Homo sapiens: one gene and its partners. The protein of the gene in region 5 purifies or fractionates together with the protein of the main gene of each other region. This does not show direct contact. Each region holds a gene or a part of one and is shown on either strand. Other genes may lie near its edges. The genes, in order: PYGL, TXNDC5, SLC9A9, CTSB, PLOD2, DPCD and PRMT3.

Evidence for each region.
Region 1: the proteins of PLOD2 (region 5) and PYGL fractionate together in Homo sapiens (co-fractionation; one large-scale study listed by BioGRID). This does not show direct contact.
Region 2: the proteins of PLOD2 (region 5) and TXNDC5 fractionate together in Homo sapiens (co-fractionation; one large-scale study listed by BioGRID). This does not show direct contact.
Region 3: the proteins of PLOD2 (region 5) and SLC9A9 fractionate together in Homo sapiens (co-fractionation; one large-scale study listed by BioGRID). This does not show direct contact.
Region 4: the proteins of PLOD2 (region 5) and CTSB fractionate together in Homo sapiens (co-fractionation; one large-scale study listed by BioGRID). This does not show direct contact.
Region 6: the proteins of PLOD2 (region 5) and DPCD fractionate together in Homo sapiens (co-fractionation; one large-scale study listed by BioGRID). This does not show direct contact.
Region 7: the proteins of PLOD2 (region 5) and PRMT3 fractionate together in Homo sapiens (co-fractionation; one large-scale study listed by BioGRID). This does not show direct contact.

What each region holds. Positions count from the first base shown.
Region 1 is NC_000014.9:50,909,984-50,913,483, forward strand, and holds part of PYGL (glycogen phosphorylase, liver form), read right to left. Parts: intron 3,148-3,500; coding exon 3,046-3,147; intron 2,321-3,045; coding exon 2,173-2,320; intron 2,054-2,172; coding exon 1,995-2,053; intron 1,889-1,994; coding exon 1,747-1,888; intron 120-1,746; coding exon 1-119. UniProt on the Homo sapiens protein: Allosteric enzyme that catalyzes the rate-limiting step in glycogen catabolism, the phosphorolytic cleavage of glycogen to produce glucose-1-phosphate, and plays a central role in maintaining cellular and organismal glucose homeostasis.
Region 2 is NC_000006.12:7,886,789-7,890,288, forward strand, and holds part of TXNDC5 (thioredoxin domain-containing protein 5 isoform 1 precursor), read right to left. Parts: intron 2,794-3,500; coding exon 2,707-2,793; intron 2,061-2,706; coding exon 1,917-2,060; intron 1-1,916. UniProt on the Homo sapiens protein: Protein disulfide isomerase of the endoplasmic reticulum lumen involved in the formation of disulfide bonds in proteins. Can reduce insulin disulfide bonds.
Region 3 is NC_000003.12:143,264,722-143,268,095, forward strand, and holds the end of SLC9A9 (sodium/hydrogen exchanger 9), read right to left. Parts: intron 2,209-3,374; coding exon 1,981-2,208; 3' UTR 501-1,980; downstream 1-500. UniProt on the Homo sapiens protein: Endosomal Na(+), K(+)/H(+) antiporter. Mediates the electroneutral exchange of endosomal luminal H(+) for a cytosolic Na(+) or K(+).
Region 4 is NC_000008.11:11,851,088-11,854,587, forward strand, and holds part of CTSB (cathepsin B isoform 1 preproprotein), read right to left. Parts: intron 2,393-3,500; 5' UTR 2,368-2,392; coding exon 2,242-2,367; intron 1,609-2,241; coding exon 1,523-1,608; intron 1-1,522. UniProt on the Homo sapiens protein: Thiol protease which is believed to participate in intracellular degradation and turnover of proteins. Cleaves matrix extracellular phosphoglycoprotein MEPE. Involved in the solubilization of cross-linked TG/thyroglobulin in the thyroid follicle lumen.
Region 5 is NC_000003.12:146,081,185-146,084,684, forward strand, and holds part of PLOD2 (procollagen-lysine,2-oxoglutarate 5-dioxygenase 2 isoform 1 precursor), read right to left. Parts: intron 680-3,500; coding exon 554-679; intron 1-553. UniProt on the Homo sapiens protein: Forms hydroxylysine residues in -Xaa-Lys-Gly- sequences in collagens. These hydroxylysines serve as sites of attachment for carbohydrate units and are essential for the stability of the intermolecular collagen cross-links.
Region 6 is NC_000010.11:101,591,321-101,594,820, reverse strand, and holds part of DPCD (protein DPCD), read right to left. Parts: intron 164-3,500; coding exon 83-163; intron 1-82. UniProt on the Homo sapiens protein: May play a role in the formation or function of ciliated cells.
Region 7 is NC_000011.10:20,506,216-20,509,715, reverse strand, and holds the end of PRMT3 (protein arginine N-methyltransferase 3), read right to left. Parts: intron 1,413-3,500; coding exon 1,303-1,412; 3' UTR 378-1,302; downstream 1-377. UniProt on the Homo sapiens protein: Protein-arginine N-methyltransferase that catalyzes both the monomethylation and asymmetric dimethylation of the guanidino nitrogens of arginine residues in target proteins, and therefore falls into the group of type I methyltransferases.

The DNA of each region.
Region 1 (3,500 bases), on a different chromosome or scaffold from region 5:
GGCCCCATCCATGGTCCCGATAGTTAGGGCCCCATTTAGCATGAACTTCATATTGCCTGTCCCCGAGGCTTCGGTGCCTGCAGTGGAAATCTGCTCTGACAGATCTGTGGCTGGAATGACTGCAAGAAAGGTAAGTTAAAATTAGTAATTTTGTCTGTCTAGATCTGCTTGTATTGTATTGAAGCATTTATTAAGTTGGGCTGTTTTGATAATTAAAGTAATACATGCACATTAAGATAAACATTCAAATGGTCTAGAAGGCAGATCACACTCTTTCCCCTTGACTCAGGCAACCACTTTTGTCCATTTTATATGCTTGTATTTCTTTCTCGAGCTATAAACTTTGAAGAGTATCTATTGACTGCGACAAACATTGATACTACATTTCTCTTCTTCCTTTTATTCCTTCCAATTTTTGTTACAGTTTTATTTTTATTTCTTCTACTTTATAAAATATATTGAAATTTCTCTTTTTTTCTTTCTCTTTTTTGGTACAGGGTCTCTCTCTGTCACCCAGGCTGGAGTGCAGTGGTGCGATTACAGCTCTCTGCAGCCTTGACCTCCTAGGCTCAAGCAATCTTCCTGCCCCAGCCTCCCAAGTAGCTGCAATTACAAGCGAGCACCACCATGTCCAGCTAATTTTTTAAAATTTTTGTATGTATGGGGTCTCCCTATGCTGCCCAGGCTGAACTTCTCTCTCTTGATCCATAACATTCAGAGTGTCCCTCCAGGACTCCTCTTTGGCAACCTGAGGAGACTGGATTGTCTGCATTCCTTCTACTTCTCACCTCCTTCCTTCCACTTTTCCTGCAGGGAAATAAGCCACACGTAATTGAGGTGTGCCTGGGGCTAGACATCTAGCCTCTGACCTTTCAGGCTGATTTGCACGCAAATTAGAGCTGCCTGAAGCACTTCCTTTGACTACAAAGGTCAGGACCACTTTTCTGCTTTACTGTGAGAGCTTATTTGTGGATTAGATGTATCTTCTTTTGCATCCCTAGGAACCTGGCTCTTCTCCCTTTATGCAGAGAGTTCTTAAACAGTAACATCAGAGGACCTAAAAACACCACAAAAAGAAAAAGCTCCCTTTCTACCTTTTCAGTTTGGGAAGTGGGTGAATACACAGTTGGGCATTTGCATGTGGATGGTGCTCTGTGAGCTTGTGACCCAAATAACCAAAGGTCCCAGTGGAAGAGAAAGGGACACTGGCTTCTTGCCCATCTGGCTGTCCCCATGTGGGAGCATCATGCTTGATGCTGAAGTGCCCATGTGAGGCACATCTAAGCCTCGTGCTTTGGCAGCCTCACATCTGCCCTCATTTATTATTGATACAAGAGCAAGTGACAGCCCTTCTTCTCACAGGGTGACCAAAGAAATATCTGAAGACTGGGGATTTGGTGTTCTCTTGCAAAACTGGGGCTGGGAACTGAAGACCTTTCCTCTGTTTTATAGAGCGGGTTCTGAATGATGCTGAAACCCCAGGGCTGCCTCCCCCAGCACATAGCTCTCACTGGCTTGGAAGAAAATGTACTTGCAAGTATAATCCTGTGATACTGACTCCAGGACATCAATTTCATTGTGACTTGGGTCACTTTAAAACCTCTTACCGTAGGCCCTTATTCTGCACAAGAGTGACACCTTCTATCCTAAGTTACTAGCTCCTGGAGGTTGGCTGCCCCATCTTTCATACCATGTAATCTCTAGAGTTTGCCCTGGCCCCTGCATATTTTGCAATGAGGGTAGTACCTTTTTCAGCAAGAGATACTCTGTAGTTCTCCAAGAAGATGACTTTCAACTTGCTTCCAACCATAGGGTCATTGTTCACCACATCTGCCACTGAAGTGATCAGCTTTATGATCATTTTGGCCATGTGATATCCTGGGGCAGCCTTTGGGGAAGAAGGTCAAACGCATTGACAGAAGGCAGCCATGATGAAGTAGAAGAATGGCAAGAGATTAGAGCCCTCAAGTCCCCATTGAATAGATTCAACTTACTTTACCACCAATGATAACTGTCCTTGGCACGAATAACTTCTTAGGGTCTTTCTTAATGCCTGAAAAAGATGGAGAAGTGGATGAAATGGAAGACAGCTGACGGTCAGGGCAGTGAGACCTATGCTGAGTCTGCTGCTTCCACCTGCAAGGGGGCTTGTTGGCTACAGGGCTGACTCACGGTTGTACATCGTGATCACATGCAGACAGTTCAAGAGCTGTCGCTTGTACTCATGTATCCTCTTCACCTGGACATCAAACATGGAGGATGGGTTGATCTTCACTTTGTACTCCGTCTCCAGGAACTGAGAAAACTTCAGCTTATTCTCCTGTTAAGACAGTGCATGGTGCCAGAGCTCTTTTGGCCTAGAAGAATTGGGTGGTCTGGTTTTTCTTTTTTTTGAGACGGAGTCTCACTCTTTTGCCCAGGCTGGAGTGCAGTGGCATGATCTCAGATCACCGCAGCCTCCACCTCCCACATTCAAGCGATTATCCTATCAGGGATTACAGGTATACACCACTACTGCCTGGCTAATTTTTGTATTTTTAGTAGAGACGGGGTTTCATCATGTTGGCCAGAGTGGTCTTGAATGCCTGACCTCAGGTGATTCACCCTCCTTGGCTGCCCAAGTGCTAGGATTACAGGGATGAGCCACCGCGCCCGGCTGGGTGGTCTGTTTTTAAAAACTACAGGATAGGCCGGGTGTGGTGGCTCATGGCTGTAATCTCAGCACTTTGAGAGGCCGAGGCGGGTGGATCACTTGAGGTCAGGAGTTCGAGACCAGCCTAGCCAACATAGTGTAACCCTGTCTCTACTAAAAATACAAAAATTAGCCGGGCGTGGTGGCGGGCGCCTGTCATCCCAGCTGCTTGGGAGGCTGAGGCGGGATAATCGCTTGAACCTGGGAGGCGGAGGTTGCAGTGAGCCGAGATCGTGCCACTGCACTCCAGCCTGGGCAACAGAGCGAGACTCTGTCTCAAAAAATAAACAAAAACTACAGGATAAACTCTCACAGTGAGTGCCCAGGAGGGGACCCACACCTGGAAGGCTCACCTGCTTCACCTTGGCGAGTTCCCGGAGGAAGACATCATCACCCAGGAAGCTGTGGAGCTTCGTCAGCTGGCTCAGGTCTTTCACATAGTCTTCTCCAATTTTCTTTCAATTCAAAGGAAAAGATGACTTCAATTTGGGGATGGTAATCAAGTCCAAATGGGCAGTTTCTGTCAGTATTTCTCTCTGTCACCTACCACAGTGTAGTTCACGTATCACACAGAACATGGGATAGTTTGACTCAAAGAAGAGTCTATAAAGTCTATGTGAGAAGAACACTTTTGCTAGTATCTTAAATGTAGTTTCAGCAGTTTTTAAAAATTATTTTTATTTATTTATTTTTATTTATTTATTCATTTTTTTTGAGATGGAGTCTCGCTCTGTCGCCCAGGCTGGAGTACAGTGGCACGATCTCGGCTCACTGCAAGCTCCGCCTCCTGGGTTCATGCCATTCTCCT
Region 2 (3,500 bases), on a different chromosome or scaffold from region 5:
CACGTGGCTAAGTGTACCAGGGCTGCTCCATTTGAGTCTGGCATCGAGTAACATGTCAGTGACGGAGGCCAAGGGGGCCACTGTGGAACACTACCATCTTTATGTCCAGAAACATGACGCCACACGCACTGAAAAGACCCACTTCATGGTGGAAAACTGCATTATAAATAGAAATGGTGCTGCGATGAAAACATCCGTGGTATATAATTATACTCAATTTGGGATGACCTTTGTAACCACCATGACACATACACTCCTCTAACATAAGTGGTCCTGACAACTACAAAATCAGCTGTTTACTTCTTCAACCAAAACGTCAACTTTTAAACAACACTCAGGCCATCCCCGACCTACAAGAGCCCAACTAGGGACAGGGTTGTAGGGGTGAGGAGGCCTGGTGTGGCCCCACCAGGGAGGAGGGGTTGGTGGCCCCACTGGTTTTTCCAAATCCAAACTCCTGGCCTTCAGGCATGACTTCTACCTGAAGAGGATGACACGGGCACTCTCGTCCAGTGCAGACCTCCTGCCGCAGCCCCAGGCTCATGGTTGGAACTGCCACTGGACACTGCCACCTACACAGCCGAAAGCCTTGAAGATCAACACCTTGAAAACCAAGCTCATCCCTTTCCTCGAGCTCTGGCCCCGCCCCTGTGCTGGGTACCATCCTCCACCAGATATGCGGGAATCAGACTCGCCTCGGACCCTCCCTCCCTCTCCGCGCTGCACAGCGGCTGGACTCCTTATGCTGGCTTTCTCCTCCTCGCCATCGCACAGTCACGGCTGCAGCATGAGGGAACGCATCATCTTTAAAGGCCTAATAGAGCAGCTTCCCACCTCCAGCACACGTGCATGCCGGTCATTTTCCTACAACTCCAATCTGCACAGAGCCTCCATGGGCTCCCTGTCAATATGGGATACAGTTCCTAATCCTTGGCCAGCTGCCCACAGACTCTCAACTCCAGCTCCTCTCTCACTCTCAGGGATCCTACACCACACCCTGACCTGTCTCCCACTGTGTTCCCCCAGCCCCAGCTCTGGCCCTGCAGAAATGCCGGCTGATTCTCGGGTTGTGCCTCTCCTGGTGCAGCCCCTCAGTGGCAGCCCTGCCCAGCCTATCTGTCCAGCACAGATCCCGTCAATCAGCTCCTTAGGGACACTTCTTGCCCATTTGCCCCCACTTCTCTCTAGCAGCCAAGCCCTGCACACATTTCTGCCCCAGCCCCCTGCCATTGGCTTGTGTGTCTTCTCACCATTTGCCTCAGAGACCTGTATGCTTCAGAGGCAGGAAACCGGTCTTATTTTTATTCCCTGGTGGCCTAGAACAGTGCCTGTGACATAACAAGGGCTTCATAAAGCAGAACAAATGAATCTGAAACCTCCTGCTACCTGAGTGAAGGAAGGAAGCCCCTCAGTGCATCAGGACTGCCTAGGCAGGTTACAGCTACAGTCACTGGCCTGATCGCTGCGGATGCCCTCTTGGCTACAGGTCTTCTAGGGGCCTTTACAACGGGTAAAGGAAAATGCCCGGAGCAAGGTCAGGAATAGAATCAGGGCCCCGGGGCCAGCAGTCGAGATTTCATAGCAGAAACATGCCCAGCAGAGTCATTCTTTAAAATGAATGAAGCGGAAAGGAAGGATTCTCTAGAGATTTTTGACACCAAATATTGTCTTGGGATTTGTCTCACATCCATTTCATGTTTTCAAAAGGAAAGCTTTTGTTTGCATTCGCCCCTGAAAGCATGTGAAAGTCGATGAAAAATACGTGTTGAAAACGCAACTGGAGCCAACCATCAGATGACTGTGTCCCCAAACTGTCATTTTGTCCAAAGCATTTGAGGAGGCCTCTGAGGGTGGGGAGGTGGGGGGCCGGGGGCCACGGGCCACTTATGGGGATCCCGACTCCAGCAGGCACCCACCTTGTCAGCCTCGGGCTCAGCTGCCAGCACCGGGGCCTCTGAGGGCGTGACGGTCTCCGTCGCTCCAGTCTCTGTGCGCTGCAGCTGCGACTCCACGTACTCCCTCAGTGACTCCAAATCCCGCTTTCCCTTGTACTGATCCACCTGGCCAAGACACGGGCACGCGGCTGAGTGAGTCCACTGAGGTGTTCTGAATCACTTAAGCCTTCCTGCAACCCCTGCTTGCCCGGGTCAGAGCTCCCAGATGTCTTAGCGGTGGTGCAAAGTCTGCATGTTCATATTTAGACGGGAATGTAGAGAGGATAACTGAATGCCTCGGCTTTGGTGAGAGAACTGTACAGGCCCCTCTTCCCTCCACGGGGTTACACATCACAGAAGTCTGGGGCAGAGGCCTGCCAGCAAGCCGTTGTGCTGATGGGGAACTCTGAGCTGCTGACCATCGGCCAGGGAAGGAGGGAGGGAGGCAGGCAGAACCGGACCAAGTGCAAGCCTTAGCTCTGTTCAAAGGCCTGAAGGTTTGTGTTTACAACCAGAGCACAGTTACCCTGTGACTGTAAGATGTGGGTTATTCTAGTGATAACCTGGGCCACTGAAATGTTTCAAGGTTCATCTCCACAACCCAAATCTTATCAATTAAGAGAAAGACGTTTGTTTCATTATACACATTTCTCCAAACCAGTGCCCTAACAATCAAGATTGGCAATTCACTGTGCCCATTAAACCACTCAGTAGCTCAGCCTGATGGGGTTAAGAGATGAAGAATTCTCAGTACTAAGAAGTGCAGACGTACCTTTTTCCCATCTCGGAACCAGAGAAGAGTGGGATAGCCACGAACCTGGTTTCCGGAGCAGAGTTCATAGTGCTGTGTACAATCAACCTGAGAATAAAAGCAGATCAACTTCCCAGTCAGTTTCTTCATGAACCTTCTTGCTAATGGGGCTACTGGACACTTTGTACGTTACAAATATTCTTTTCAAAATCCACATTCTGTAGCAACTCTGCCAGCAAGGTGCAGTTTTTGAAGAGAATGTTCCTGAAAGCTATGCTAAAACATACCTGAGCTAAAAGGAGTAAAGGAAAGACTTTAGAGGCAAGATTTATTGTATTAATAGCTCAGTTAAACATGCCGGTTTTTAGGAAGCAACATTTTAACTCGAGCAAGTAAAGTCAGCACCTGGTAGCTTGAGTCAGGGCCCTGGCTTGACATTTGGTGGTGGTGGGAGGGGGGTTAGCCTGGCTGTCGGTGACTGGGACCCAGACCAGTTCACATGCCAGCTTAGAATTTACTCTCATGCTGAAGCTTAGAGGGTTTTAAAATCAACAGGGAGCAAGAAGTGAATTTTAAACAGGAGTAGTTGGTATATAATAAAGGTAAGACTGCAAAGATGTCAAGATTATAATCCGTCCTTAATTTTATAAACTTAATTTACCAACAAGCACAGCTCTTCAAGCTTTTTCTTTCATTTAAATCTCATAAAGCTGCTGCTTGCCCAACATTTTCATGAAACATCTTGTTCTAAGTCATTGCTTTCTTTTTTATTTTCTACCAGCACTAAAATAGGCAGGACTAAGTTGTTATTCACT
Region 3 (3,374 bases), 2.8 Mb from region 5:
CACTCCTGCCCCCTACTAAGGTTTGCCTTTTTTGGGTGGATCTTTTCTTTCCTTGGTGTCTTTCTCCACACAAAGAAAACGCCAAGTTCGCCTCCCTTCCTTTTAGCATGATAGGGACAGAAAAAAAGAGGAACCTTTTATCTTTTTGCCTTTCTTTTCTTTCTTTCTCCTCTAGTATCTATCTATCTCCTTCCCCTATTTTTGTAGCTTTTGTGAACCCTGGTCATCCCTAGTGGGAAAGGCGGCATCTGTGCCCCTCTGCTTGACTCAGGTTTCCCTTCTCTGGGACGCCTCCCCAGTCCATCCCTGCTCTCTTCATTCCTTCAGTGACTTGTCTTGCTAGTCTGTTAGCTGTTTCTGGCCCACAGGATCCCTGCATGTCCCATACATTAGCTTTCAGTGCCTGCTTCAGCTGGCACTCTGAGTACAAGAGCTTAGAACCACCAAATCACCTGGAAAGAGAAAATGACTTTAAATAAAGCATTAGCCAAACACAATCATACTTTGTAACAAAAATTTATTAGGATTAAGTCAAATTAGAAAACTTCATGCTCCACCACTTGTCATATTTACCTGAAATGACAAAGTTATACTTAGCTTGAGTGTAAAACTTGTGCCCCAGAGATTCTGTTTGGAAAGCAAAAAAATAATTGATGCACATAGCAGTGTGCCTGATACCACCACAGTGAATGTTGTTTAAGGCCTAACAAACAGTGGTCAGCAAAGCATACATTACTTTTAAGCTTTGGGTCCAAGGAAGATGTCATTCCCTACCTCCTTCAAAAGCAGACTCATCATAGCCTGGGCACCTAGGCCTGGAGCCTATTTTTTCGAGTCTAATATGAACATCTGGATTTCAAGAGGTGCTAGGCTTGAGGTATCTTTATGGCTTAAAAGGCACAGGTCATGCAGCTGAATTAAAAGCTATCATGTTGGTCTCTGGAATGCAGGCCATGAGCCACGCCTTGTAAGGGGGAGACCTGAGGCCCTGTCCTTGGCTCCTCAGTGTAACCCACACATCATTGGCTCTGTTCCTCTCGCCCTGCTCCTGCACTGCTCATCAGCTGTGAATGCTGGAATTGGAGGACAGGTTGGGGCTCCTGCACAGTCTGCTGCCAGGTAGAGAGCAACACAGGCTGCAGAATCCTACCCTCCAGCATATCGCGGGGAGGGGGGGACCTGCTGCACAGCCAAGAAGTGACTCACATGCAGGCAAGGACGGGAAGGCTTGTTCTTCAGGCACAACGTGGTATGGGGAGAAGAAACCTGGTTTTCTTGGAATGGTCCTACTAAGCTTGAAAGTGGTGCTGCATTTAGGGCAGGGCACACCCAGCCATAGGCAACCCCTTTGAGCGATGGGAGAAGTAGCATAAGAAGGATGCCAAGAAGAACAATAGGTTCTTCAACTCAGTGTGGGCTCTGGGAAACCATCAGCAGTGGGTACGGAACACTTCTCTGGGCTCTGCCCTGGGGTCACTGAGAGCAAATGGGAGTCAAGTCCTCAAAATAAGAAACTTATCACTTACTAAATAGCTGGGCATTCCCTTCAGCTTAGGAGCAAAATGTTTACTCTCAGAAGCTTTCTTTTATTTTTAAACTCTCCTTAATGGAGGGAATAAAATCCAGAATAGAAGTGAAGGGCCTGGAGAGCCGCATTCGCAGCAGAAATGCCCTGAAGACCCAGCACAGCTGTCCCATCCTCCAGCAGCTAGACTCCTGATACCTCCATCCCCACCCCAGCCAATCCAGTAATCAGAATGGCTGCTGTCAAAAAACTAAATTCATTTGCATAATAGAGAGGGATAATAAAATCTCATTTCTTCAGGCACCAGAGGATCCATGTGACAAGGCTTTGATTCTCTCCAATTTATGCTCTTAATATGTTTTCCAGCCTCTCCCCTGTACTGCCTCATCAGCTTGGCTTGTATTCCTCAGTGAGTCTTGCATTACTTGTGATTACATCTGTACTCTTCATGCCAATTAATTCAACTGGGATTGACCCAAAGTTTGCTCAAGCTTGAGTTCATAGCCTCCCAGGCCGAGGTCTCCCTCATAAATGTTTTCCTTGCCTGGCGTCTGGGGTGAAGCTTTCTGGTCCAGACCTAGCCTTGCAGGAGGACTGCAGGGTGAGGAGGCTTGCTCCTGGTAATTTATGGCTAGTTCATCCTGGTTTACAATGCATTCCACATCATCCTCTTTTAGCTGTTCCTGGTTGGGAAAAGAGAGAGAGGTGTCACTTCATGATGAAGGCAGAAAACAATAGCAGTCCTACAATTTTTTTTTTTTTTTAAACAGAATGCATGTTTTCCTTTCTGTAACTGCCCTGTCTGGCCTTGGCTGATGTTTCTGCTGCAGGCATGGTACAGCCTTTCCCTGAGTCAGCATTGAATATCTGATGCTGTACAGCCATAAGGGGTCTCTAAGTCTGAGGTAAGAGGTGTTAAAGAGCATGGTACTTTCATTTCCTCTTTGGGTTAAGGATGTTTCCACCACTGGTATTAACTAGGGTTGACAGGAATTAGGAGTTAGCATAATCCTATGATCTCAGAATAGGGGAAGATTCTCATGTTGGTTTTGTAACATTCCTGCCTATCAAAAAATCCTTGAAACACAGTTATTGCTACTTTTTTTTTTTTTTTTTTTTTGAGACAGAGTCTCACTCTGTCATCCAGCCTAGAGTGCAGTGTTGCGATCTCAGCTTACTTCAACCTCTGGTCTCTGGGGTTCAAGTGATTCCCCTGCTTCAGCCTCGCGAGTAGCTGGGATTACAGGCATGTGCCACCATCACATCTGGCTAATTTTTGTATTTTTAGTAGAGACGGGGTTTTGCCATGTTGGTCAGGCTGGTCTTGAACTCCTGACTGCAAGTGATCCATTCACTTTGGTCTCCCAAAGTGCTGGGATTACAGGCGTCAGCCACCACGCCTGGCCTCCTGTTACATTTTACCTTAAAAGTGTGTCTTCTCAGCATATTTCTTGGGAAGAGTATCACAAGTCTAGAAATGGCTGGAAGTCACCATAGTGGATAATGCCAGAAGCTAACTGGATCTGGCTAATAATAATTTTTTCCATACAGAGGTTCCCTTGAAAGAATTAAGATCCCAACTCTTCCTCCACTGGCTTTGGGAAGGCCATACTAAACTACTTGTAGAATGGGCCCTTGCCGGGGGATTTTTAGGGCAGTGGTTTCCAACTTTCGCCTGTCCCAGGATCACATGGAGGGCTTGTTAAAATACAGATCATCGTTCAAGCTCAGGGTTTCTGAGGCGGGGCCTGAGAGTGTGCATTTCTAGCAAGTTCCCAAGTGAGGCTGCTGGTTTGGAGACTACTGTTTGAGAACCACTGCCTTAGGCTTCTGTGCCCTGAACACACCT
Region 4 (3,500 bases), on a different chromosome or scaffold from region 5:
ACAAGACATGCCGAAGAAGGCTGCAGACAGGTGTCCTTGGTAATTTCATAAAACAAAAGGAAATTCTGTTGCTCAATGCACCTTTTGATTTTTTTTTTGGGTGGGACGGGAGGGTGGGAGTGGACAGAATTTCACTGTGTCATCCAGGCTGGAGTGCAGTGGCGAGATCTCTGCCCACTGCAACCTCTGCCTCCTGAGTTCAATCGATTCTCGTGCCTCAGCCTCCTGAGTAGCTGGGATTACAGGCATGCACCACCACACCCGGCTAATTTTTGTATTTTTAGTAAAGACAGGGTTTCACCATGTTGGCCAGGCTGGTCTTAAACTCCTGGCTTCAAATGATCTGCCTGCCTTGGCCTCCCAAAGTGCTGGGATTACAGGCATGATCCACCACACCTGGCCTGACTTGCGATATTGTACGCTTCTTTCTAGGCTTATGTAATGGATTTTTTAAGATGAATTTATCCACAAATTATAAACTCATTTTTAAATAAGTTTATTCAGTCCAGATAGTGTTTCTTGCCCTGCTCTCCTGCCTCAACCTCTGCCCAGGATCCTCTCATCATTTCTCATATCATCCCCATTGTGCAGAAGGCAGTGTCGTGCAACTTAACTACCCCATCCTCACGTGGGAAGTGGCATCATCTCAGCTCACCGCAACCTCTGCCTCCCGGGTTCATGCGATTCTCTAGCCTCAGCCTCCCGAGTAGCTGGGATTACAGGCGCCCGCCACCACGCCTGGCAAAGTTTTTTATTTTTAGTAGAGACGGGGTTTCATCATGTTGGTCAGACTGGTCTCGAACTCCTGACCTCAGGTGATCCGCTTGCCTTGGCATCCCAAAGTGCTGGGATTACAGGCGTGAGCCACCATACTTGGCCTCATCTGGCTTTTCTTAGATTTCCCTTAAATTACTCAAGATTGAGTCTGCCCACATAGTGGGGACCCAGACCTTGTCTGTCACATCTGCGGCTGAGACACCTTGGAGAAGCACAATAGAAAACACTGGGGGTGGCTCATGCCGGTAATCCCAGCACTCTGGGATGCCGAGTTGGGCAGATGACTTGCTGAGGCCAAGAGTTCGAGACGAGCCTGGCCAGTATGGCGAAACCCAGTCTCTACTAAAAATACAAATATTAGCCGTGCACGGTGGTGCAAGCCTGTGGCCCCAGCTACTCAGGAGGCTGTGGCATGAGAATCGCTTGAACCCGGGAGACAGAGTTTGCAGTGAGCCAAGATCGTGCCACTGCACTCCAGCCTGGGTGACAGAGTGAGACTCTCTCAAAAACCAAAAAAAAGCACCAGCATCTTCTCTACTAATAACTTGAGAAGGAAAAAATAAAATAAAAAGAGAAAGTAATATAAAAATGAAAAGAAACAAGTACTGTACCTCAAGCGGTGTCGGCAGCCCTGGGCAGCATGAGCCCTGCGGACGCCAGAGAGGCCTTCACTCTCCCACTTCCCACTGCCCCAAACCAACGCCTGCCACTCACATTACAGCGGTGCAGAGGAGCAGGCACTCACCTCTGGGGTGGCTTGGGCCCACCCAGGAAGGTACCACATAGCCTCTTCAAGTAGCTCATGTCCACGTTGTAGAAGTTGTGCCCGGCCTGGAAGAGAGTCACCCACTGACTGAAGGGTCTCCCGGGATGGCGGTGGATGGGCACGCTGCCCACACACGAAGCCCAACCCAGGGAAAACCAGAGACCCTACCCAATTCAAGGGCCCAAGGGTTGGGGGGCACTGGGGAACAGCCCAGAGTGACACACGGGCAGAGTGGGTGTCTCCCCTGATCTGCTCCCATTTGCTGACAATCAGAGACCCTCTCCAGCCCTCAACATGGCTCACTCCTCATTCTTGGTTCTCAGTCCGAGGGTCAGGGCTGGGCAGAGACAAAGGGAATCAGGGGCGGGACTGATAAACTGCCACTGTGCCACGGCGGGCGTCACAGGGGCTAGCTGGTTTTGAACACTTCCGAAGCTCACTTACTCCCCCACACACCTCCACGTGCACACAACCATATATTCATACACATGCACACACACTCATGCACACACGTGGGGTATGGGACAAAGGAGGGAGGCGTGGTCCAGAGCCGACATGACTCAGGGTCAGGGCCATTTTTCAACAGTCCAGGACAATGTTCTGTGGGCCACAGTGAGGGCTGGCTTCCCATTCCTGGAGTCAGTGTGCACAGACCGACCTGGGAGGGGACATACATAGGACGCAGCCCCACAGCCTACCTGCCACGTGGTATTCCGTTTGTTGACATAGTTGACCAGCTCATCCGACAGGGGATGGAAAGAGGGCCTGCTCCGGGCATTGGCCAACACCAGCAGGCAGCAGAGGGAGGCCCAGAGCTGCCACATGTTGGAAGCCGGATCCTAGATCCACCTGGAGAGGACAGAGGGCATCAGGACACCTCTCTGTTATGTGGGTCGAGGGCTCACACACACAGGGGCACCGTCTCGGGCATCAGTGGGGACCCCCATGCTCGTCCTGGCCCAGGCGGAGAACTCTTAAGGAGCTGAGGTGTCTATGGGATCCCCGCCCCCCTGCCCGAAGCACGCCATGACCTCGTGTGGGTCCCCGGGGGCCAGGCGGCCAGAGCCCAGAGAGAGAGCCAAGGGGCTGTGCTGGACGAGACCGAGTCCAGGGCCTTCGCTGCTATTTTTAAACGGCCTTTGCATGGATTTGTAGAACAGCTTGAGACACTTTCCCAAGTGAGTGATATGAAACAGTTAAGAGCCTGTCTGTGTGATTACACCCTAAGTGGAGGACCCAGGGGACAGGGAAATGTAAGAAAAGTTACAATCCAGGAGTCCTAGTTTCGACAGGACACAGACAAACAAGCTCGGTGTGGGCTGGTGGAGGTTGAGGCTGAGAGGTGGGGCTGGGCTGGCCATCCACCCACTCCCGGGGCCTCTCTGGTTTTTCCAGTCAGCCAAGGGCTCTGCTTCCGGCTGCGGAGATGAGGCTTCTGAGAAGGAAAACTCTCACCTCGATGCCCCAGCCGTTTGATCTTGCACTGGCTCATGAGTCACAAGCCAGTGCTTTCCAGCTTGAACTCTGAGTCACCCTCCTAAGTGAGCAGCTCAACAAAAGCAATACATGTCTCCTGGGCGCCTGCATCCAGGGCTGGGGAGAGCCGCGGCGCGGGGAGCTGGGTGAGGCAGGGGTTCCTGTCAGTCACTCCAGGGGCTCCCACGGGTGGGTGAGGTGTTCTACCTCCCACAGGTCACAGGTCGTCATGAAAGTCACAGGACTGCGGTGTCAGTGCTTAACAAACTGCCTGGCACCTAGGGGTTCTATCTGAAGAACAATTTAAACTTCATTGTTGCTTAAGCAACAATTCATCTAGGAGAATAAATATATGAGGACAGCAAGATGGCTCTGGAAAAAAGCTTTTTTTTTTTTTTTGAGACAGGGTCTTGGTCTGTGGGCCATGTCACCCAGTCTGGGGTACAGTGGCACAATCTTGGCTCACTGCAGCCTCCACCTC
Region 5 (3,500 bases):
AATCATGCACACACTTTTCAGCAAATATATTCTTTTCAATCTCTAGAAGTGAAAATCTAATATTGGTAAAAAAAACTTGTATTTAAAGCAGAATAATAGCTATTTCACACAAAAAAACTCATGCAATCAGGAATACTGGAATGTTCTGGCTGTTAGTGTTACTGTTGGCTTAATTATAAATTTTAAAACCTATCAAAACAACCCTTAATTATAACCATTAAAAAGTTAGTAAACTAAATCCCCTTTCCAAGCTTTTAAATAAAGAGTATTACTCTTCTATCAACCATAATGTGAGTATGGTAAACATATATTATCTCTTAGTATTCCCCACAGCAATGAGCTTGTTCCTTTGAAGATTTGGGACTTTAAAAACATTTTTTTAAGATATTAGTTTTATACTAGTATTTCAGGATTCCAAGTGGTCTTGGGTTCTCAAATTCCCATTAACTATAAAGAAAAGAGATGAATGCAAAAAAAATTTCAAGTAATACTAACAAGACTACATCTTTAGATTATGGTATTTCACATTAAAATATTAAACCAAGTAACTTACACTCTATTCCCTTGAACAATATCCACATAATCTTCAGATCGTGCATAGTATCCATCAGGACTCAATGCTCCCCAGAAATTGGACCACAGCTTTCCATGACGAGTTACAAGAGGAGCAATGATCTTTCTAAAGACAGAGAGAGTGTGTGTGAGAGAGAGAAACCTATATAATTATTTATTTTTAAATTACCACAGAATTATGTATTTTGGGCTTAGTATGACATATAACACAAGAAAGCTCATTCAACAAACCTGTAGTTAATAAAAATAAAATAAGGATCTTCTTTCCCAACATCTTTTCTTAAGTAAGTATATTGCTAATTTTCAATCATATTTCTTAAAAAGAGTAACAAAGAAGGAAAAAGTAATTGAAAATGCTAATGAATACATAAAAATGACTTTTAAAAATGCCTTGCTTACATCCAACAGAGGGAAACTACTTTAGTTATTTAATTATATTTAAGTTTAACTAAAGTATTTCGGAACCTATATTAAATGAAACCAAATATTTTCATTGTCACTGGGTGAACAACAGCCCCTGGTGCATTTAAGATATTCAATGAATATTTGTTGAATTTGTAAAAAATGAATGAAGATGAACTGAGATGTTTGTAAACAGGCAAAGCTTTCCTGTAATTAAGTCTCAAATTACTTAAGTATGTTTCCAGTTTTCCATGACTTTAAAAAATGACTTGTGATTACAGTAAGCTAGTCCTGGCAACACTGAACTTTCCTTTAACTATTTTAGAAAGCAAATTTATGGAACAACTATTCTTTATATGAAAAAAGAAAACCTATTTCACCTCTATCTTGTGAAGACCAGCCGGGCCCTTTCTATTACATGCACAAAAGTGAAATAAATAAACACACATCGGGCCCGGCGCAGTGGCTCATGCCTGTAATCCCAGCACTTTGGGAAGCCGAGGCGGGCGGATCACAAGGTCAGGAGTTTGAGACCAGCCTGACCAACATGGTGAAATCCCATCTCTACTAATAATACCAAAAAAAGTTAGCCAGGCATGGTGGCACGCACCTATAATCCCAGCTAATCAAGAGGCTGACACAGGAGAATCGCTTGAACCCGGGAGGCGGAGGTTGCAGTGAGCCAAGATCATGCCACTGCACTCCAGCCTGGGCGACAGAGCAAGACTCCATCTCAAAAAAATAAATAAATAAAAATAAATACACATCATGCAAAATAATAAATTTTGGTTTATTCTTCCGAATTCCTACTAAACTATTAATCAGAAACACATGTTTTGTTTTGTTTTGAATACCTACAATACTGGAAATAATAACATGAATTAGAATCTACATACATTAATTTGGGAAATAATTCAATATGAATATCAAACATTTAATTTAAAAAGAACTTGTAATTTATAATCCCAGCTGCCTCCTGAAAAGGTTTAAACCAACAAATTTGGGAAACCAAAATTCATCTGCTGTATACCTCAATGTTTTTGTGAATAAAAATGTAAGGATGGCAGCTGAGGAATGATTCATATTATTATACAATTTAAGGAGTAAAATTTAGAGCAAGGGAGCAAATAGAGATAGGGAGAGAAGAGGAAAAAAGAGAGCTGATGAGAAGGTAGAAAGCCACATGCCCAAGATGTGTCAAATCTCTTTCTCTACTCTTCAGTCCAATCTACTAAATCTTGCAACATTCCTGGCATATGTCAATAGACTATAGAAACCACATGTCTAGATACAGAAGCAAGAACCATAGGTATTACATAAACCTAAACCTTTGATTAACTAACAGAATTCCATGGAGACACAGCCTGAGTTTTACTCTTTAAGGGGCAAGGGCCCCAGATGGCAGGTAAGTCTTTTTCTTTTTTTTTTTTTTTTTTTTTTGAGACGGAGTCTCGCTGTGTCGCCCAGGCTAGAGTGCAGTGGCGCAATCTTGGCTCACTGCCAGCTCCACCTCCTGGGTTCACACCATTCTCCTGCCTCAGCTTCCCGAGTAGCTGGGACTACAGGTGCCCGCTACCACGCCCGGCTAATTTTTTGTATTTTTAGTAGAGATGGCGTTTCACTGTGTTAGCCAGGATGATCTCGATCTCCTGACCTCGTGATCCACCCACCTTGGCCTCCCAAAGTGCTGGGATTACAGGCGTGAGCCACCACACCCGGCCGGGAATTTTTTTTCTTTTAGAAGATTTAAAATGTTTAATATTAAGAGGGATATATGTCAAATACATAGTGTAAATTCATTAAATAGTTCACTAAGAGAATAATTAATAAATATATAAATTATAGTCATAAAATGAAAATATCTAATTATTAAAAAGCATATGGGCATTACACACTATAGCATTTCAATCAAATTAAGAGAAAACAATGCAAATTCAAGAAAATAGTACTGAATTAAACTAGGTTTTAAGAGTTACAAATCATACACTATTTCATATCTCTAGGGTGTCACAACTGCTTTTCCTTGCCAAATGATCAAAACCTCATTCATATGCTTTGGAAAATTACCTACGATGTATATAGATAGTTAACTTAGATACTGAGTATCTATAACACAGCTATACAGTTGGGCTGTATATACAGGTTGCTACAGAGAGGTCTTAGATTTTTGAAGTAAGAACTAAATTCTCAAATTTACAAATTCTAGTGATATATATATATAGATAGATATTATATATAGGGTGGGTTAATAAAGCATACTACATTTCCCATGTATCTTACTTAACAAAATAAAAACAATCATTCTAACATTTCACCCGCTAAACATTCTATTTATTATGAGAAATAATTGTGTTAATACATGTACTTACAACAATACCTGGCACTTAATAAGCACTTGTTAAAGGTGAGGTCTTAGCAGGAGTAGTAAAAATGGTATTATTAGTATTAGCAGTAGTATTGACAAACAAACTTAGTATCATTGTAAGCTGATATACATGGTGTCTTTTTCCCATTTCAATTGAGTT
Region 6 (3,500 bases), on a different chromosome or scaffold from region 5:
AAGCCTAAGGCTAGGAGTGTTCATTGTGCTTATGTCAGCCCCAAGTATTACTAAAGGCCCACTGGGAGCCTCTGTCACTTACCAAGTAGTTCACTCGTCTTCTCGTCATATTCTTCAGCCATTTCCTTGCCGTCTGGGAATAAATAGTGAACCTTCCTTCTCCCTATGCACAAAACAGAGAATGCCTTACCTCAAAGTCTCCCCTTGCCCTGTCCCTTGCAGATCAAGGGGCCTACCTGGGAAACAGTGCCAGCCTTGGGAGTACTGAGGAACCCAGCCAGGACCTCCCCAAACTCCTTGCCAACCACCACCCACCATTACTTTAAAACGTGTCCTGAGACTCTCTCCCTTTCTGAAGCTTTCCTTGAACATCTTTGCCCTGCTGTTTCCTCTACCAGCAACAGCTCCATATTTTTTCCTATCTGTGGAACTCTTCTTTGCCCTTCAAAATCCAGCTCAAATGTCACTTCCACTGGGAAGTCTTCCTCCACTATCACCTCCAGCCACTTTGGTAGGATTAATCACATCCTCATGTGTGCCTCCCTAATGTTTTACTCGTATCCATAGTGGAGCATTTACTACATACCATGATACTTTTAAAAGCATTTGTCTTCCCATGAATGACATCGTATTTATCTCTCTATGTGTTCAGGACATTGAATTGGGTTTCCTGACCAAGCACTCCCTCTAGCCATGCCAGTGCCCTGCCTTCTTCTGCATATCTCCAGGCCATTCCTATCACACAGTAACACAATGTTAAGTCCCCATGTATTTTCTTCATGGCACTTAATTTGGTTATGATTTTACATCTTTTTATGTGACTCTTTGATTACTGCCTATCTCTTCTACTAGATAGGAGGGGTTTTATCCCCATGCTATGGTTTCCTAAAGACCAAGTGTGGCTCCTGGCATATACTAGGAGCTCAACTAAATACTGATTGAAAGGATGAATAAACACTGATGCACTATCCGTTGAAAGAACAGAAGAAACTAAGGGAGGCCAGGAGTTCAAGACCAGCCTGGCCAACATGGTGAAACCCCATCTCTACTAAAAATACAAAAAAGTTAGCTGGGCATGGTGGTAGGTGCCTGTAGTCCCAGCTACTCAGGAGTCTGAGGCAGGAGAATTGCTTGAACCCGGGAGGCGGAGGTTTCAGTGAGCTGAGATTGTGCCACTGCACTCCAGCCTGGGCAACAGAGTGAGACTCTGTCTAAAAAAAAAGAAGAAGAAGAAACTAAGGGAGTCTCCTAGCCCAATTCCTCTACCCCTGGAGCATTTGCTTAAGAGTGGCTATGTAATTTCCCCTTTCTTTTTATAGGTAGGGAAGTAGATACAGGCAGACTCCTCAGTAAAACTAGTAACAGAGCACTAACATCCAGTAGACAAGTACCCTATGTATGCTTGATGAATAAGAGCCCCAAGGTGCCTTTTTCCTGTCCAATTCACTTCTCTGGGATACAGTTCCCTTGAGCCATTCCTAATCTGTATTCTGCATAAACTCACCCCTAAATTTGCAGGGCCTCTAGCAGAGCCCTAGGTAATACCACCCTTAATCATTTGGATGGCTCACAGGCATTAGAAAGGGCTCTCCTGTCAGGAGCGGGATCCAAGGTACTGCCTGGGAGGAGCTGAGGGGGTCTTGCCTGACCATCTTCTCCCCTTGGCATCCAGCCTTGAGTCCAGGCAGGATGCAGCGCTTACTAAATCCAGGCATTTCACATGTCTTATCAAATTTAATTCTCACAATAATCCTATGTGTTTTCATTACCTGTATTTCATAGATGAGGAAAAGTGAGGGTTTTTTTTTTTGACAGAGTCTCGCTCTGTCGCCAGGCTGGAGTGCAGTGGTGTGATCTCGGCTCACTGCAACCTCTGCCTCCCGGGTTTAAGCAATTCTCCTGCCTCAGCCTCCTGAGTAGCTGGGACTACAGGTGAATGCTACCACACCCAGCTAATTTTTGTATTTTTAGTAGACACAGGGCTTCACCATTTTGGCTAGGATGGTTTCAATCTCCTGAGCTCGTGATCTGCCCATCTCAGCCTCCCAAAGGGCTGGGATTACAGGCATGAGCCACCACGCCCGGCCAACTGAGGCTTTTTTTTAGAGTGTCTTGCTCTGTTGCCAAGGCTGGAGTGCAGTGGTGTGATCTCGGCTCACTGCAACCTCTGCCTCCTGGGCTCAAGTGATCCTCCACCTCAGACTCCCGAGTAGCTGGGACCATGGTTGCACACCACCATGCCCAGCTAATTTTTAAATTTCTTTGTAGAGATGGGGTCTTACTATGTTACCCAGACTGATCTCAAACTCCTGAGCTCAAGTGATCCTCCTGCCTTGGCCTCTCAAAGTGTTGAGAATACAGGTGTGAGCCACCACGCCTGGCCCTTAACTTTGTTTAAAGTGGGTTTTCCCAAACAAGTGTTTTTGTTTTTTAAGAGTGTCTGGCTATGTTCCCTAGGCTGGAGTGCAGTGGCTATTCACAGGCATGATTATAGCACACTACAGCCTCAAACTTCTGGCCTCAAGTGAGCTTCCTGCCTCAGTTTCCCCAGTAGCTGGGATTACAGGTACCCAACACAGGTGTTTAGTTTTTATAAAGCCAACTATATATTTTCTTTCTTTGTGGTTACTGCCTTAGAAGTTGCACTCAGAGCATCTTCCCTTACCCAATGATTATTCGATACTTATCTATACTTTGTTTTAATAGTATATTTATTCTAGAAATAAATGTATATATAAATTATTAAGTATATTAGTATATTTTTGTAAAAGAAAAATAACTGTGAGTGTATGCATGAAATAATATAGAAGTTTATGTATAAAAATATAAATTATGGGCTGGGCGAGGCGGCTCACGCCTGTAATCTCAGCCCTTTGGGAAGCCGATGCAGGCGGATCACCTAAGGTCTGGAGTTTGAGACCAGCCTGGTTAACATGGTGAAACCCTGTCTCTACTAAAAATTAAAAAAAAAATTAGCCGGGCTTGGTGGCGGGCGCCTATAATCCCAGCTACTCAGGAGACTGAGATAGGAGAATCGCTTGAACCCAGCAGGCAAAGGTTGCAGTGCGCCGAGATTGCGCCATTGCACTCCAGTTTGGGCAACAAGAGTGAAACTTGTCTCAAAAAAAAAAGTAAATTATGATTATCTGGGTGGTAATATTATATTTGACTTCTTTATTTTTCATATTTCCACAATGAATGTAATTATTTCTTAAAAAAACAAAAGTAAAATGGAGTCTCATTATCCAGCCCAAGATATCAATAGCCATGATTCTTGGTGGAAGGGAGTAACCTCCCCCCTACTCCCCACACCCCTCCTACACACCCAGGGGTAAATCTGCAGGTTTGACAAGGCTTAACCACATATGCAATACTGAGTTGTTTTTCAGTCTGGGGATAGGGTGGAATCTTAACAATATCATTTTGTGATGCTACTAACAAAAGAACTTAACAAAATCCTGGCTGATAAAATATTTGTTTAAAAACTTCTGTGACCAAAA
Region 7 (3,500 bases), on a different chromosome or scaffold from region 5:
CTGCCTTGGCCTCCCAAAGTGTTGTGATTATAAGCATGAACCACCATGCCTGGCCCTGTTTTTTACTTTTAATTAATTAACTTTTCTAGAGACAGAGTCTTTCTCTGTTACCCAGGCTGGAGTGCAGTGGCACGATCTTGACTTACTGTAGTTTCCAACTCCTGGACTCAAGCAATCTGCTCACCACAGCTTCCCAAGTAGTTAGGACTACAGGCATGCACCACTATGCCTGGCTAATTTTTTTAAAAGAATTTTTTGTACAGACCTGTGTTGCCTAGGCTGCTCTCAAACTCCTGGGCTTAAGTGATCTTCCTGCCTTGGCCTCCCAAATGCTGGGATTATAGGTATGAGCTACCATACCCTGTTGAAATATTTTATAATGTTGTTTGATATATTTTATTGAAAACTTTTATAATATCAATATTTTTAAAATATTTTATAAGTTGATACATTTTATTAAAATTTTATTCTACATTTCAAATTGAATCAGTAATTGTAAATGACAACTTTATAGACTGCTTAGTAACAGTTACATGTTTAACCTTTGCACATAAATCTGGTTTGAAAAAGATAATACGTTAGTAAATAAGTACATATTTATCCCAATCTTTAAAAACTTTCATGAAACCTAGGATAAATGTATTGAAATTAGATTTCCTGGGCAGTACTAGAAATCTATAAGGCTAAGGAATAGTCACAAAGAGGGAAGAAACTACAAAATGAGAACCCTAAGTATGCTAGATAATCAACTAGGCTGTCTGCATATATGATTTGTATATGAAGGCTGAAGCTCTTTTCCATATTTTAGTTTTTTTATACAAATCTTTATTACATCCTGATTTTCTAGCAAATACAATTAAAAACTCCTCCTCAGAGGAGTCCATAATAAAATGTGTAGTACCTGTGTTACTAGTTTAATAAAATATCCAAATAACTAACCAATTTGTTTAAAATTTATAGTAAGAAACTTATTAAAAACAAAAGACTATCTCTCTTCCAAATATAGGCCAATGTAAATGATTTTCAATATAGATAAACTCAATGTGGGAGTTACATTTGGTTAAATCTGGTGGAGCAAACGTCTAAGAAAATGATTACGTGGCAGACCATGAGGATCAGCTGATTCTCTTCCTCAGCTGAACTATGTCAGATTCCCACAATGAGAACTTCTCTCTTATTGAGGAGGCTCATTAGGAAAGGGTCCATCATCCATCCATCTGCTCACATAAAACCAGCTCCCTCCTGCTGACCCACTCTACCCCCACATTAAAAACTACAAGGTAGTGTGCTTTTATGGCTGTTTCACTGGAGACCATAAGTTTGAGTTGAATTATTCAACGTGAGGGTCACGGTGAGAGAACGTGGATCTTTCTTATTCTTGTGAACTGTGACCTTTCCTTTCAAGGCTTCACCTGTAAAACAAAGGCAAAAATTGTTAAGAATTCAAGGAATACAGTGTAGCAGAAAAGTAAACAATGTATAACTAGCACTTCTTTTTATTGTGATGTTTTCCCACTTTTTAAACTTTATTTAAGGTTAATATTCTTTTTTTTTTTTTTTTTTTTTAAGATGGAGTCTCACTCTGTCACCCAGGCTGGAGTGCGGTGGTGTGATCTCAGCTCACTGCATTCTCCCAGGCTGGAGTGCACTGGTGCAAGCTTGGCTCACTGCAACCTCCGCCTCCTGGGTTCAAGAGATTTTCCTGCCTCAGCTTCCCGAATAGCTGGGACTACAGGCGCATGCCACCATGCCCAGCTAATTTTTTATTTTTAGTAGAGATGGGGTTTCACCATGTTGGCCAGGCTGGTCTCGAACTCCTGACCTCAGGTGATCCACCCGCCTCAGCCTCCCAAAGTGCTGGGAATACAGGAATGAGCCATTGTGCCCAGCCAATATTCATTTTTTAGAGCAGCATTATGTTTCATTAATTTTTTTTTTAAGACAGTCTCTCTCTGTTGCCCAGGCTAGAGTGCAGTGGTACAATCCCAGTTGACTGCAACCTCTGCCTCCCGTGTTCAAGTGATTTCTCCTGCCTCAGCCTCCCAAGTAGCTGGGATTACAGGCATGCGCCACCATGACCTGCTAATTTTGTATTTTTAGTAGAGACAAGGTTTTGCCATTTTGGCCAGGCTGGTCTAGAACTCCTGACCTCAGGTGATGCGCTCACCTACCTCAGCCTCCCAAAGTGCTGGGATTACAGGCGTAAGCCACTGCGCCCAGCCCTGTTTCATTAATTTTTGAATGAAGCGAGAACTAACTACATACCACAGTGTCAAATCCTTGTGAAAGTGAGTAAAACTATTGTGGTCATAAAGGGTCAATGGAAGCATTTTACTGAACTTCTAAATATGAGGCCCTATGGTGGGTTCTGGGCATCTAGAAAAAAGATATGGTCCCTGCCCTCAAAGAGTTTGTGATCAGGGTGAAGAAAAAAGCTATACTAACAATTACACAATAGGCATGTGTCTAAAGTGTGCTGGAGGTGAGCACTGGGGATGGTTGGAAGGCAGTTAAAGGCAAGGTTTCACAAGAATTAATGAATTACCCAATGCCAGGGCTGAAGTCATGGAGAACCAGGCTTAAGGGATGTACATGTAATGGTATTTAAGGAAAACACATACACAGAACCTTCAGGAATGGCATTTTGAGGAACTGAAAATTATAGCTGGGAAAATGTAGAGGCACATGACAAAGCCATTGGCCATTGATGCACTGGTGCTGTAAAAGGGAAACAATGTACCCATGTGAAACAGTGAACACACAAAAATTACTTACCTGTGCAAAGGCTGATTTCCTAAATTCTGTAGGTTCCAAATTTTTATCTATGTACTTTTCTAATTATAAATACTTCTCATTTAATTTTTCATTTATTTTAAAGAGCTGTTTAAAAAGTAACAAATTGCTAAGTTGTAGTTGATCACCATTCTTTGCTTAAATAATATTAAGATAACACCAAACAGTGTCAGGAATAGCTTTAGCATCTGCATGGACACAATGAGGCTCCATATAATGACCAAGGAAATCTACATAAAACTATTGAAGTACTGAATGAATATCGTATTTAAAAAAATACAAATTCCCCATATTCAAGGAAAATTATCTGAATGCTTTTCAAGATGGTAGTGAAATAACACAAGTAAAACATAACCACCTGTTATATTTATTTTCAGAATATAAAGATTCCATTACTGATACCTTCTCTACATCTTTGCAAAAAAGGTGAGACTCACAGTTTAACACATAATTAAGGAGTTAAATAATAGAAGAAATAATGTGGCCCAAGGTGCAATCCATTCAACAAAATATAACAATTTTTGTGTACGTATATATGTTAATGTGTATATTTGGCTTTAGCTTTTATATCTGACCTATTCCTCTATATTAAGAAAATGATATAAAACTATCTCATATGACATGTTCACCAATAGTGGACATAATAAAGATTACCAGTCAGATAGTTCTACAAACTTTATGGAGTTCAGGTTAATCATTAGATAATT